Linked DNA regions of Homo sapiens: region 1 is linked to region 2. A link means that fine-mapping ties the variant in region 2 to the expression of a gene that starts in the linked region. Tissue or cell type: whole blood. Region 2 holds a variant in brackets; the other region holds the start of a gene. All regions are shown on one strand. Distances are from middle to middle.

Region 1 (8,089 bases), 640 kb before region 2:
TATTTGGTTTAAGCTACCCAGTCCGTGGTAATTTGTTATGGCAGGTCAAGGAATCAAAATATAAAGACATTGATCTTAGTTTTTCTTTTTCACAGGACCAAGATACCACAGCATTTCCAAACACTTGAGGAAGTGAAGATACTCACCAGACTGGATGTAAGACGCAGCAAATGGGTGGTTCCTAAATTGCTGAAGTCCTCATATCTACTGCCTGCTTTAATGAACAAACCAATTCTTGATACAGGAGAATAGTTTTCCAAAGAAGCAATCACCAAGCCATTTGGTAACTTGGTAAACTGTATTTAAAATAAAGTAGAGATATAATGAATGTCTTCGTATTACCAAGGAGAGTAAGGCATGTATAGCTTCCAGCGAGCAAGTTAGTGGGACTAACCTCAAGGTCCTGAGGTTGTGGCGGTGCTCCTGCAGGCGCAGCTGTGGCTTTAACTTTGGGGGCAACTTTGAGGGAATAAAATCTCTAAACATAAAAAACACAGGTTACACGTATTTCTCACAAGAACAGTGCTTTATATAAAAGCATGGTATCTTAGGGTACCCAAGCGACAGAGGGTGTTCGGGGGTGGAAGGAGCAATAACCACCTCCATGGGAGGATTTACCTGCATAACATTTTTTTTTTTTTTTTGAGACAGAGTGTCTCTCTGTCGCTCAGGCTGGAGTGCAGTGGCGCAATCTCAGCTCACTGCAACCTCTACCTCCTGGGTTCAAGCCATTCTCCTGCCTTAGCCTCCCAAATAGCTGGAATTACAGGTGCGTGCCACCATGTCCAGCTAGTTTTTGTTTTGTATTTTTTAGTAGAGATGGGGTTTCACTGTGTTGGCCAAGCTGGTCTTGAACTCCTGATCTTAAGTGATCTGCCCACCTTGGTCTCCCAAAGTGTTGGAATTACAGGCGTGAGCCACTGCACCCCGCCTAGCTGCATAACTTATTATGGACTTACTAACCCACCAGTTTACCCAAGCCATTCTTAAACCTCTATTTATTAGTGATTTATAGAGTTCTTGATGCTTATTTTTTAAATGATGTAAAGAATCACTGTATTTTCTTATCTTTCAGTTACCTTATAAAAGTTTCATGGTTCTGTGTAGTTCTAAAGCTTTGGCATTTTTTGAAAAAGTGTCAGATCACCCCATCCACAACCTTTTTTGTTGAGTTGGAGTCGTGCTCTGTGTCCCACGCTGGAGTGCAACAGTGCGATCTCGGGTCATTGCAATGTCTGCCTCCTGGATTCAAGCGATTCTCCTGTCTCAGCCTCCCAAGTAGCTGGGATTACAGGTACATGCTGCCACGCCTGGCTAATTTTTTGTATTTTAGTAGAGATGGCGTTTCACCCCATAGCTCAGGCTGGTCTCAAACTCCTGAGCTCAGGCAATCCACCCGCCTCGGCCTCACAAAGTGCTAGAATTACAGGTGGGAGCCACCACACCTGGCCTGTGTCCACAACCTTTTATAGGTTTCAGCTTCTTGCTTCTTTTATCTGCCCAATGAATGTCATCCGTTCAGTCTAATTTCCAATTGAAATGGTTTCATCTCCTTAATCATCTTAGTAACCTTTAAAAAAGACAAACTAGCCGGGTGCGGTGGCTCACGCCTGTAATCCCAGCACTTTGGGAGGCCAAGGTGGGCGGATCACCTGAGGTCAGGAGCTCGAGACTAGCCTGACAAACATGGAGAAACCCCATCTCTAATAAAAACACAAAATAAGCGGGGCGTGGTGATGCATGCCTGTAATCCCAGCTACTGGGGAGGCTGAGGCAGGAGAATCACTTGAATCCGGGAGGCGGAGGTTGCAGTGAGCCGAGATTGTGCCATTGCAGTCTAGCCTGGGCAACAAGAGCAAAACTCCGTCTCAAGAAAAAAAAAAGAAAAAGACAAAGTATATACCAACTTCCTCCAAGCCCTCAATATTTTCCATTGTATCTTCACTCTTGTGTGCTGTATTAAGACCACACAACCAAAGGTCTTAGTTTTTTTGACTAAATAAAACATTTATGACATGTATGTCATCCTGAGATTAATAATGGCTTCATCCACATCAGATTCTCAATATATAAAATGCAGTTACTGGTAGGGTGAAAGGGTCCCATTAAATATTAGATAATGGACCCAAAATGCATTCATTTTATTCAGTTTGTTTTGGCAAATGTTATACAATGCCATACAAATCATTCTGATTATGACTAAAGTTCATGAGGTTATTAGAGGAGATGATGAGTGAATAAAATTTGGTGCTCCCAAGACCCAATGAACACCTCCTCACTGGAGTTTCCCGGACATCCCTGCACAGTCTGCAATGCCTCCACTCTGTGCTGTCCAGAAGGCTGTTTGTTGTACATCATTAGTGCTGTACTAGGTTGGCTGCTGGTTATCACTTGCTTTTAGTACTGCTTTTCAGTTATGAATTACAATTAGCTTTACTTTATCGTCATCAATTTAGTTTGCTGGGTATGGTATAGTTAACCTTCTTTGTAATTTTGGCCTATAATTTTCCAAAAAGTAAACTTTTAAGATATATGGGCATAGCAATTCAAATATGAATAATCTATAATTCCGTTACCAAGTGAGATTTTAGGTGTTTTCCAACCAAATGTGCCCAAATAGTAACTCTTTGTTGGTAATTTTTTTTTTTTTTTTTTTTTGAGACGGAGTCTCGCTCTGTCGTCTAGGCTGGAGTGCAGCGGTGCGATCTCGGCTCACTGCAACCTCCGCCTCCTGGGTTCAAGAGATTCTCCTGCCTCAGCCTCCTGAGTAGCTGGGATTAGAGGCGCCCACCACCACCACGCCCGGCTATTTTTTTTTTTTTTGTATTTTTAGTAGAGACGGGGTTTCACCATGATGGCCAGACTGGTTTCGAACTCCTCATCTCAAGTGATCCGCCTGCCTCTGACTCCCAAAGTGCTAGGATTACAGGTGTGAGCCATCGCGCTCCGCCGGTAATGTGCTTCTTAATCGTCCCATTCAAATCAGCAAATTATCCTAGTAACTGTCATGCAATCTTCTAAATTATTTTGTTCTAATAACAAGATATATCTAAGTTTATTCTCCTATATAAAGTGCTAAAATTAGACACATAAATAATTGCTTTCAAGTTTACTGCAATTTGTTTACTTTGGGCCTCTCCAACTGTTTTCTCTGAGCTTTTTCTGTTGCAAAATAGAATGGAGAAGGAAATGTTGGGGTCTTTTGCCAATCTAACCGTGCTTCCCTCCAAGGGTAATCACTGGTGTGTCTAGGTATACCTGGAAGGTTAATGCAATTACAGCCTAAATCGATATAGCCCACAGCACATTTATGTAAACATAAAGCATAAGAACATTCCATGCCCAGGTCTGGTCTTCTGCATCTCCATCTAGGGGGGTTTCTCAACACAGGTACTACTACTGGCACTTGGGGCTAGATAATTCTTTGCTGTAAGGCGAAGTTTAGCAGCATCCCTGGCCTCTCCATGCCAATAGCACCCTCCTTACAAGTTGTTGCAACTAAATATGTCTCCAAACATCGCCACCGGTTCCCTGGGGGCATTCTGTCCCTCGCTATGATTTTTTAAGTGTTCCCCCTTACCCCTCTTAATAACCACTGTCCCACAGTGATATAACCCTGATGTGTGAGTTTTCCCCAAGTGACAGCTATGTTTAATTTAGGCTTGAAGGGGAAACTTAATTAAGGAGCTTTTGAGGACAAACAGAGACGTCTTGGAGGAACCGTCTAACATACGATCAAGAAAAGCAACGTTAGACTACTAAGACACCATAGTATTTAACAATGAAGTTCCAGGTACTGTAATAAGTGTTCTATCTGCATTAGCTCCTTTCTTATACTTTTATTCGCTGGGGAAACTGACGCTCCGTGATAAACCAAGGAGCAGAGGCTGCAGCGGATAAAGTGAAGGTGGGGGGCTAAGTGCGCCGTCCTCCCGCTCCCCCTGGGTTTCACGGTCTCTTTCTCCAGCACTTGAGTACCGGAGTGACCTTCAGAAGTCTCTCCAAGGACTCGCTTCAACTCCGCTCTCACGTCCTGCCCCTCTCTTCAGGTTTCCCGGTGTTAGGTCTCTTGTGCTCACAGCATGAGCTGGGCCTCCAAAGCCTGACCCAGTCTGCAGCCCACTTGGCCCGCAGGGTTCAGCTGAAGGGCAGACCGAATCCCAAGGCCCAGACCCCAGACCAGACACCTCCGCCTCGTATCACCTTGTCGACACACTGCTCCCCAGCCCTTTCCCAAACCCGCCACCTGAGCTCACCGAGAAAGAGCCGGCTCTGGTTAGTAGCTTCATGATTCAAGATTGTTCTGACACACGGTCACTGCCGGATTAAAGGAAAGCAAGATGGTGGCGGAGGCCGGGAGTTTCCCAGCGTTCCCCGCTAACACTTTCCCACGTCCCCTTCGTGAGGTACTCTCTATACTGCCGCGCTCTACTGCTCTCTTTATAAGGTTGGACCAGTCCAATTCCTCCAAGACTCAGAATAGGGAGACGCACAATTTCCCAAGTAAATATATGCAGAGAATAATGTACGTCACTGCTTTTTGCGTTCTTCTCCTAGCCTGAATATCCAGTATGCACCCCTTTTCTAAGTACGTCTGCAGCAGCCTGTCACAACTCCCCCCGCTATCTTGGGCTCTTCCGCTCAGCATTGTCCAATGGGACGCGCCTCTCTTGGGACTCCGCATGCGCCCTCCGGGATGACACCTGCACTGGAGGCCCTGGGTTTCCGCGTTCCTGGACGTTGGAGGCTTCAGGAGATTCCTGCCACTCCACCTTTCTGCAGAGGTATTGGGTATCGAAGCCCGGCGTAGTTGCCTCTCGCTGGGTGAAGTCCTTACTGGATCTTTAGCTCCGTGAAACAGGGGCCTCGTTCAACGTATTCGCCGCTGTGTCCCCCAGAGCAGGCCCGGGACACACCGGGAGGGTCAGCAACCTCGGGGAATCATCACAAGGCTTTTGGTCTCGTGGAATTTACGTCCTAGGCTGGGGCTACATAGAATATAAAAACTTAGCTATAGTTTTTGTGTTAGGAAAATAGAAATGTTTTGGATAGTAGGTGTGTTATGTGAGCCGAAACCGGCAGTTGGAGAAAGTCAGTCACGTGACGACTTGGGGCGGGGGCGTTCACTCCGGTCCTCAGCGAGTGTTAACCCAGAAAGTGCCTTGAGCTAGGCACTATGCCAACGCGAGAGGCGTGGTCCCTGCCCTTTAGGGACTTTAGAGTTTCGTACCTTGCTACGTTGCTTGGTTGGGAAACCGACAGTATCAGCATCAATATCATTTAGGAGTTGATTAGAAATGTATGAACTCCAGGTCCCATATTGGATCCGAATCGGTGTTTTTACAAGATCCTGGGATGACTTCGTATGCACAATAGTTTCAGAAAGGCTGGTGGTGTAGACGTTACAAGGCATAGGCAAATGTACTTTCTTTTTGCCTTGTGTCTGAATTGCTCCAGGCCTACAACGGACTTGGGCTCTCTAATTAAGATCTGGGCATTAAGAACCTGGCACCAACCCAATTTCTGTGCCTGCTGGGGACGCCCTCAACCCAATTCATACCACACAGTTTCCCCACATGTGGTAGATTTAACACTAGTGGTGCGTGAGATGATTTTAAGTTGGTACATAGATGAACACTTCCATTTTTTCCTTTTAAAAATTTGTATAAATTTAAGGGGCGCAAGTACAGTTATGTTATATGGATATATTGCAGTAATGGTGAAGTCTGGGCTTTTAGTGTACCCATCACCCGAATAATGTACATGGTACCCATTAAGTACTTTCTCATCGTTCACCTCTCTCCCACCCCTCCACCTTTCGGAGTCTCCATTGTCTGTCATTCCACACTCTATGTCCATGTGTACACCTTATTTAGCACTGTTCCATTTTAATAATATATTTATTTTGATTATGGCAAGCAATGCTAGTAGTGAATTTCCTCTTTAAGTACATTTATAAAATAATAAAAGTTGGTGTAAAAACGTTAAGTAACTTGATGATACGGAGATACAGCAAAAATCATGAATGTGTTATACAGGTACCATTGAGTGAAATCTGGGAAGCAGTGCTCTGATCAAGCCACCTGCCTGCTTAAAATTCTTCAACGACAGCCACGTTTTTCAGGATAAAATTCAAATTCATTAACATGGCATACAAAGCTGTCTCCAGTACTTCAAAACCCCAATTCCCAAGTTAGCTAGCTGCACCCCTGAGTCCAATCATTGTAACTTCATCATTCAACAGTTCAGGTCAGGTAGGAGGAACACAAAAGTCTCCACACTCAAGTGCACACACACACACACACACACACACACCCACACCTGCTTATAATGTCCTCTCATTCTTAGGTTATGACCCAATATCAGAAAGGGGCAAAAATAAATTCTGTTCAAAATGTGGCAGGATTTGAAACATAATTCATGATATCAGCTACATAAATCATAAAATCCCAAGTTTGTCAATTGCAAAATGTCCTATTAAGCATTAAGCTACAAATTAGGAGTGCCATCTTGTGGACACATCCACCACTTCCACATCATGTCACCTCCTAGCCAACTCCGTGGCTGTTCTCACTGTGGAGGTCTCTGCCACAACTCCAGCATTTTATTGCAGAAGAAAACCCAGTCCTTGAACTGGTTTCTGCGTAGAACACACTGAAAGCCCTGGGAGAGGAAACCAGCAGACAGGAAAAGAGTAGACATGGAAGAGCAGATGAGTTCATTGCTGGAAAGCTCGAATTGTTAGTTTCGTTAATGTGGGGTCCAATTTGACTCTATGGAGCCTAACTACCTAGCCTGAGCGCTCGCGGTGAGTATGGGGTGGGAGAATGTAAAGAGAAAGCAGGCAACAGTAGGAGTAAAACACACCAGAGGAAGGTGATGTGGGTTTATACTTGGGAACAACATTACCTTGCCATCTTAGGGCCAGAGGCATTAATCATGGCTTCCCCAATGCATAATTTCGATGTTGGCATTTCCTTCCCCATTCCTTTCAGAATCCTACCCTGTCAGGTATTATCTCTGATGAAATATTCCCTGGGCCAGGCACAGTGGCTCATGCCTGTAATCCCAGCACTATGGGAGGCCAAGGTGGGTGGATCACCTGAGGTCAGGAGTTCAAGACCAGCCTGGCCAACGTGGCAAAACCCTGTCTCTACTGAAAAAAAAATACAAAAATTAGCCGGGCATGGTGGCAGTTGACTGAAATCTTAGATACTCGGGAGGCTGAGGCAGGGAGAATTGCTTGAACCTGGGAGGCGGAAGTTGCAGTGAGCCGAGATCACTGCCATTGTACTCCAGCCTAGGCGACACAGCGAGACTCTGTCTCGGGGGGGAAAAAAAAGTTCATATCAATTTCTAATATTCTATAATTATTGTTTTTGGTCACATATACTTTTTCCATGTATTGAGGTGAACAGATTGGTCTTATTCTGTGTTAAGTTATATTGATTGATTCAAATTATAAATAAACCTTTCATTCCTGTTATAAACCCAACTTGGTCTGGATGTTTTATTCTTTTAATATATTGCTAGACCTAATTTGCTACTTATTTGTTTAGGATTTGTGCATTTATGTTCCAGAGTGATACTGGCTTTAACTTTCACTTTCATTCCCCCCATTCATGCATTTTTCTGTCATAGATAAAATGAGTTAGGAAGTGTGAAAGGAAAAAAAATCTCAGGGCCTCCAAATCACTAAGCCAAAGGGAAAATTCAAGCTGGGAATGATGTCAGACAAACCTGCCTCCCGTTTTATTCCTAAATAAGATAGCTATAAGGATAAAAAGCTACATAACTTACCTTACAATTTGCCCACAGGGCAATTCCATGTGGATCTGAGGATCTTTACCCTAAAACAGTTTTGTTGAATTTCACCCTGGCAATGTAAATTGATAGCTGTCTTCCTTCCTTCCTTTCCTTTTCTTCCTTTCCTTTCTCTCTCTCTCTCTGTCTCTCTTTCTCTGTTTCTCTCTCTCCCTCCCTTCCTCCCTCCCTCCTCCCTCTTTTTTTTTTTTTTTTTTTTTTTTTTGGAGAGTTTCACTCTTGTTGCCCAGGCTGGAGTGGAATGGCATGATCTGAGCTCACTACA
Region 2 (8,109 bases):
CTTGGCGGGCCCCGCACTCGGAGCAGCCAGCCAGCCCTGCTGGCCCCGGGCAGTGAGGGACTTAGCACCCAGGCCAGTGGCTGCAGAGGATGTACTGGGTCCCCCGGCAGTGCCAGCCCACCGGTGCTGCACTCCATTTCTCACCGAGCCTTAGCTGCCTTACCGCGGGGCAGGGCTTGGGACCTGCAGCCCGCCATGCCTGAGCCTCCCACCCACTCCATGGGCTCCTGTGCAGCCCGAGCCTCCCCCACGAGCATCACCCCCTGCTCCATGGCACCCAGTCCCATCGACCACCCAAGGGCTGAGGAATGCGAGCACACGGCGCGGGACTGGCAGGCAGCTCCACCTGCAGCCCTGGTGCGGGATCCACTAGGTGAAGCCAGCTGGGCTCCTGAGTCTGGTGGGGATGTGGAGAGTCTTTATATCTAGCTCAGGGATTGTAAATACACCAATCAGCACCCTGTGTTTAGCTCAAGGTTTGTGAGTGCACCAATCAACACTCTGTATCTAGCTGCTCTGGTGGGGCCTTGGAGAACCTTTATGTCTAGCTCAAGGATTGTAAATACACCAATCAGCACTCTGTATCTAGCTCAAGGTTTGTAAACACACCAATCAGCACCCTGTGTTTAGCTCAAGGTTTGTGAGTGCACCAATCGAAACTCTGTATCTAACTAATCTGATGGGGACGTGGAGAACCTTTGTATCTAGCTCAGGGATTGTAAACGCACCAATCAGCGCCCTGACAAAACAGGCCACTCAGCTCTACCAATCAGCAGGATGTAGGTGGGGCCAGATAAGAGAATAAAAGCAGGCTGCCCTAGCCAGCATTGGCAACCCGCCCGGGTCCCCTTCCACACTGTGAAAGCTTTGTTCTTTCGCTCTTTGCAATAAATCTTGCTACTGCTCACTCGTTGGGTCCACGCTGCTTTTATGAGCCGTAACACTCACCGCGAAGATCTGCAGGTTCACTCCTGAGCCCAGCGAGACCACGAACCCACCGGGAGGAACGAACAACTCCAGACGCGCTGCCTTAAGAGCTGTAACACTCACTGCGAAGGTCTGCAGCTTCACTCCTGAGCCAGCGAGACCACGAACCCACCAGAAGGAAGAAACTCCGAACACATCTGAACATCAGAAAGGACAGACTCCAGACGCGCCACCTTAAGAGCTGTAACACTCACCGCGAGGGTCCGTGGGTTCATTCTTGAAGTCAGTGAGACCAAGAACCCACCAATTCTGGGGACACTACCATGGCTCCAGGACTCAGTTCTTCACAGACCTAGCTTCTGGACTAGCAACCATACACCCAGCCTCCAGGCTGGCACCAGTGGACACAGGCTACAGGTAAGCCCCAACTAGGCACAATGCTAATGCCTAGTTCTAGACCCCTGAGGATAGCAAAATCCATGGATGCTCAATGTCTTATATAAAATGGTGTAGTATTTGCATATAATCTACACACATACTCCTTATGCCTCAGATTTTCTCTAGATACTCATAGTACCTAATATAAAATCTATATAAATATTTGTTACACTGTATTGCTTTTTATTTGCATTATTATCATATTATTATTTTTTTACTATTTTTGGCCCAGAGTTGAATCTGTGGATGTAGAACACACAGATATGGGGGGGTCAATTGTACACATTCTTCTCAAGCACACACAGAACGTTCTCCAGGAGAGTTCATATGTTAGGCCACAAGATAAATCTTAATAAATTTATGAAGCCTGAAATCCATTTCAAATACCTTTTCCGGCCACAATGGTATTATACTAACAATCAAAAATAGACAGAATTTCAGAAAATGCAGACGCATATGGTAATTAAACAACATTCTCCCAAACAACCAATGGGTCAATGTAGAAATTAAAGGGATCATTTAAAAATATCTTGAGGCAAATGAAGACGGAAACACAACATACAAAAATATATAAGATATATAGTATACAGCAAAAATGGTTCTAAGAGTGAAGTTTATAGCAATAAACATCTACATCAAAAAAGAAGAAAGATCTCAAACACCCTAACATTATAACTAGAAACTAGGTATAGGAACTACAATTGGAAACTAGAAAACCAGGAACTAGGAAAACAAGGACAAACTAAGCACAAAGTTCACAGAAGGAAGGATAAAATAAAGATCAGAGCAGAAATAAATGAAATAGAGACTAAAGAAACAATAGAAAAAAAATCAACAAAACTTGTGAAAAAGATAAAACAGACAAACTTTTAGCTAGAATAACTAATAAAAAAGGAGAGGAGATTCAAGTAAAATCAGAAATAAAAAAGGAAACATTATAATGGATACTACAGACATACAAATTATCATTAGAGACTATGATGACAATTATGTCAACAAATTAGATAACCTAGAAGAAATGAAAAAATTCCTACCTGTATTAATCCTACCAAGTATTAATCACAAAGAAAAAGAAAATCTGAACAGACTGATAACAGACTGATAAAATAGACTGACAACAGACTGATAACAAATAGACTGATTAAAAAAAAAGATTGAATCAGTAATAAAAAGTCTCCCATTAAAGAAAAGCCTAGAATCAGATGGCTTCTGGGCTGAATTCTACAAAACATTTAAATAAGAAATAGGACCAATCCTTATCAAACTCCAAAAAGTTGAAGAAAAAATATTTCCAAACACATCTTATGAAGCCAGCACTATCGTGACACCAAAGCCAGACAAGGACATACAAGAAAATTACAGGCTGGCCAGGCACGGTGGCTCATGACTGTAATCCCAGCACTTTGGGAGGCCGAGATGAGCAGGGCAGGAGTCTGAGACCAGCCTGGCCAACGTGGTGAAACCCCATCTCTACTAAAAATACAAAAATTAGCTGAGCATGGTAGCACATGCCTGTGATCCCAGCTACTCGGGAGGCTGAGGCAAGAGAATTGTTTGAACGTGGGAGGCGGCAGAGGTTGCAGTAAGCTGATATCATGCCACTGCGCTCCAGCCTGGGCAACAGAGTGAGACTCCATCTCAAAAAAAAAAAAAAAATTACAGGCTAATATCCCTGATGAACATAGATGCAAAAATCCTCAACAAAATACTAGCAAACTGAATTCAACAGCATATTAAAAGGATCATTCACTCACCACAATAAAGTGAGACTTATCTTTGAGATCCAAGGATGGTTCAACATATGCAAGTAAATATTAATACACCACATTAACAGAATAAAGGACAAAGACCATATATTATCTCAACAGATGCAGAAGAAGCATTTGACAAAATTCAATATCCTTTCATGATAAAAACTCTAACCATATTAGGCACTGAAGGAATGTAACTCAACACAATAAAGACTATATATGACAAGCTCACCATTAATATCATACACAAGAGTAAAAAATAGAAAGCTTTTTCCAAAAGTATCTCAGGAAAGGTACAAAGATGTCCACTCTTACGACTCCTATTCAATATAGTAATGGAAGACCTAGCCAGAGCAATCAGGCAAAAAAAGAAAGAGAAGCCATCCAAATTGGAAAAGAAGAAGCCAAATGGTTCCTGTTTGCAGATAACATGAAAACCCTAAAATGTCAGTGAAAACACTGCTAGAACTAATAAAATACAATAAAGTTACAGGATATAAAGTCAACATACAAAAATAATAGTTTCAGCCGGGCATGGTGGCTCACACCTGTAATCTCAGCACTTTGGGAGGCTGAAGCAATTGGCTCACTTGAAGTCAGAAGTTCAAGACCAGCCTGACCAACATGGTGAAACCCCATCTCTACTAAAAATACAAAGTTAGCCAGGCATGGTAGCACACATCTGTAATCCCAGCTACTTGGGGGACTGAGACAGGAGAATCACTTGAATCTGGGAGGCGGAGGTTGCAGTGAGCCGAGATTTCGCCATTGCACTCCAGCCTGGGAAACAAAAGCGAAACTGTCTCAAAAAAAAAAAAAAAAAAGTTTCTATACATTAGCATTAAACCATCTGAAGTGAAATAAAAAAGGCAACTGTATTTACGATAGCTATGAAAAATACTTATGAACAAATATAGCCAAGGAAGTGAAAGAGCTGTATATTGAAAATCATAAAACATTGATGAAAGAACTTGAAGACACAAATAAAAAGAAAGATATTCCATGTTCATGGATTGAAACAATATTGTTAAAATGTCCATACTACCAAAAGTGATCTACAGATTGAATGCAATCCCTATCAAAATCCCAATGACACTTTTCAAAGAAATAGATTAAAAGTCATAAAATTTTTATTGTACCACAAAACCCCAAATATCTAAAACATTTTTGAGGAAAATGAACAAAATGGAGGCATCATACTTCCTGACTTCAAAATATATTACAAATCTACAGTAATCAAAACAGCATGGTACTGCTATAAAAACAGACACATAGACCAAAGGAAGACAATAGATAGCCCCAAAATAAACTCACACATTTACCACCAATTAATGGATTTTTGACAAAGATGCCAAGAACACACAATGGGAGAAAAGATAGTGTCTTTAATAAATGGAGTTTAGAAATGTGGATTATACATGCAAAAGAATGAAATTAGACTCTTATACCATGTACAAAATCAACTCAAAATGGATTAAATTCTTTTTTTTTTT[C/T]CTTTTCTTTTTTTTGAGACAGAGTCTCACTCTGTCGCCCAGGCTGGAGTGCGGTGGCATGATCTCCGCTCACTGCAAGCTCTGCCTCCCAGGTTCATGCCATTCTCCTGCCTCAGCCTCCCGAGTAGCTGGGACTACAGGCACCCACCACCACGTGGGCCTGGCTAATTTTTTGTATTTTTAGTAGAGACAGGGTTTCACTGTGTTAGCCAGGATGGTCTCGATCTCCTGACCTCGTAATCTGCCTGCCTCGGCCTCCCAAAGTGCTGGGATTACAGGCGTGAGCCACCACGCCTGGCCATTCGGATTAAATTCTTAAATGTAATACCTGAAACTATAAAACTACTAGAAGACAACGTATAGGAAAAGCTGTGCAACTAGCTCTACCAAATATTAAAACATACTATAAAGTCTCTGTAGTTAAAAATGTGTTGTACTGGTACGTAAATTGAAAGACAGCCAAATGGAACAGAATAGAAAGTCTAGAAATAAACCAAAATACATATAGAAATTTAGTTTATTATATAGGTAACATCCCAACTAACTGGGAAAAAATTCTACTTTATAGTAAATGGTGTTGTAACAAATGGATAGTCATTTGGAAAAATATAAAATGTGGGAGTGGGAAAAGTCTCCATGAATCAAAATCTAGTATCAAGATAAGTCTGATAACATAGTACTTACAAATATGTTTTATGAAGTAAATGTCAACACAAAGCCAAAAGATAAATAACAAACTGGGAGAAAATAACTTGTATCACAGATAAAGGGCTAATCTCTCATATATATATATACACATATATATATACATATATATACACATATATATACGTATATATATACACATATATATATATATACGTATATATATACACATATATGTATATATACACACATATATACACATATATGTATATATACACACATATATATACATATATATATATGAAGAGGTCTATAAATTGAAGGGGGAGGGATAACCATTAGAAAAATGAAAAAAAAATTTGTTTAATTTATTTGTAGATTCTGGATATTAGCCCTTTGTCAGATGGATTGCAAAAATGTTCTCCCCATCAAAAAGTGGGTGATAGATATGAACAGACACTTCTCAAAAGAAGACATTTATGCAGCCAACAAACATATGGAAAAAAGCTCATCATCACTGGTCATTAGAGAAATGCAAATCAAAGCCACAATGAGATACCATCTTATGCCAGTTAGAATGGTGATCATTAAAAAGCCAGGAAACAACAGATGCTGGAGAGGATGTGGAGAAATAGGAATGCTTTTACACTGTTGGTGGAAGTATAAATTAGTTCAACCATTGTAGAAGACAGTGTGGTGATTCCTGAAGGATCTAGAACTAGAAATACCATTTGACCCAGCAATCCCATTACTGGGTGTATACCCAAAGGATTATAAATCATTCTACTATAAAGATACGTGCACACGTACGTGAATTGCACTATTCACAATAGCAAAGACTTGGAACCAACCTAAGTGTACACCAATGACAGACTGGATAAAGAAAGTGTGGCATATATGCACCATGGAATACTATGCAGCCATAAAAAGGATGAGTTCATGTTCTTTGCAGGGACATGGATGAAGCTGGAAGCCATCATTCTAAGCAAACTAACACAAGAACAGAAAACCAAACACCCCATGTTCTCACTCATAAATGGGAGTTGAACAGTGAGAACACATGGACGCAGGGAGGGCAGCATCACACACTGGAGCCTGTCGGTGGGTGGAGGGCTAGGGGAGGGACAGCATTAGGAGAAATACCTAATGTAGTGATGGGTTGATGGGTGCAGCAAACCACCATGGCACGTGTATACCTATGTAACAAAACTGCACGTTCTGTACATGTACCCCAGAACTCAAAGTATAATAAAAAAAATTTGAAAAATGAAAAAAAAAAACAGTTCAAAGAAAAATAGTCCTCAAACATAACAAAAGATCCTCATATTCACTCATAACCATAGTGTCAATTAAAACTGACAAGTCATTACTTACTTTCAGAAGCTTTACAACACATTGTAGGTGAGCCTTTATGAAAATAAATACAATCCCATCAAAGTTCCAATAAGCAACTGTGTAGAAATTCTAGTGCTGGAATAGTCAAAAACAACTTTAGAAAAGAACAAAACTAGAGGTCTTATACTATCTGATTTCAAGATATATAAAATTACTGTAATTAAAACTGTGTGGTATTGGTGAAGACACAGATACATACATCAATGAAACTGAACGGAGTCCAGAAATAGACCCACACTAAGATGGTCAATTTTTTTTTCCCACAAAAGTACCAAGGGAACAAAGAGAAGTCTTTAAAAAAAACAGTGCTGGAATAACTGAATATCCTTATGGGGGAAAAACAATAGCACCAACTTTACCTCATACTAGGAACAAGAAATTAACTCGAGATGGGTCACAGACCTAAATGAAGGAAGCTAAAAGTACAAATTTAAAAGAAAACAGGAGGAATGAATAAAATGAAGAAACTTAGGAGAAAATCTCTGTTACCTTCAAGGGGGTAGGGATTTCTTACTTTGCATACCCAAGGTATGAGCCATAAAGGAAAAATTGGTAAATTAAACTCCATTAAAATACAAAAAAAAAAATGTACTCTTGTAAAGATACTGCTAAGGAAACAGAAATGCAAGTGGAGAAAGAAAATATTCATAATACATATCTAATAAAGAATTTTATTCACAATAGGTATTTATTCACAATACATATCTGATAAAAAATACAAAAAAAATTAGCCAGGTGTGGTGGCACATGCCTGTAACCTTAGCTACTCAGGAGGCTGGGGTGGGAGGATTGCTTGAACCTGGGAGGCAGAGGTTGCAGTGAGCTGAGATCACACCACTGCACTCCAGCCTGGGCAAACAGAATACGTAAAGAATTCATACAAAACTACAGGGGCAGAAAACAGACCAGCAGTTGTCGAGGTCTAGGCATGGGAGGATTTCACAAAGGGGTACAAGGAAGACAAAGTAAGATACCCAAAATAGTATCTTCTGCATGATTCCATTCATATAAAGGTATAGGCAAAAATGACATCAATGGTTATAGGGGAGGGGTTTGTGATTGATTAGGAAAGGGCAAGAGGGAATTTTCTGGTGTTACAGAAATGTTCTGTGTCTTGATTAGGTGTGCACATTCTTTGAAACTGATCAAACTGTCACTCAAAATCTGAGCACTTCATTTCATGTAAACTGTATCTCAATAGAAAAACATTTTAGAAATCATTACAATTGCTATATACTGGATACAGACAATAATCTTAAACTACCCAGTGGTGGGGATGGTATCTTGTTCTCCTTTGTCTCTCAAACACCATGGAGCTTAGTGCATTGTGCATTGTTTTATATAAAGCACACGGCCCTGCAAATCTCAATTAATACATGATTAATTTTTTTTTTTTTTTGAGATGGAGTTTTGCTCTTGTTGCCCAGGCTGGAGTGCAATGGCGCGATCTCGTCTCACTG

The links. PIP is the estimated chance that this variant, and not a neighbour inherited with it, causes the effect.
Region 1: UQCRC2 starts here. The variant in region 2 is fine-mapped to the expression of UQCRC2 in whole blood (TOPMed, PIP above 0.99).

Annotation. Positions count from the first base shown.
Region 1 is chr16:21,949,624-21,957,712 of GRCh38, reverse strand. It overlaps UQCRC2 (ubiquinol-cytochrome c reductase core protein 2), which reads right to left and starts at 4,352. Exons shown (of 14, transcript NM_003366.4): 1 at 4,257-4,352; 2 at 395-478; 3 at 147-296. The coding sequence starts at 4,289. It also overlaps a transcript of PDZD9 not described here. RefSeq lists enhancers at 4,010-4,059, 4,070-4,239, 3,754-4,471, 4,560-5,019.
Region 2 is chr16:21,304,983-21,313,091 of GRCh38, reverse strand. It overlaps the pseudogene ABCA15P. Among named protein-coding and RNA genes, the nearest start is that of CRYM, 31 kb to the right of the region's middle. The variant C/T (reference allele first, on the strand shown) is at 4,610.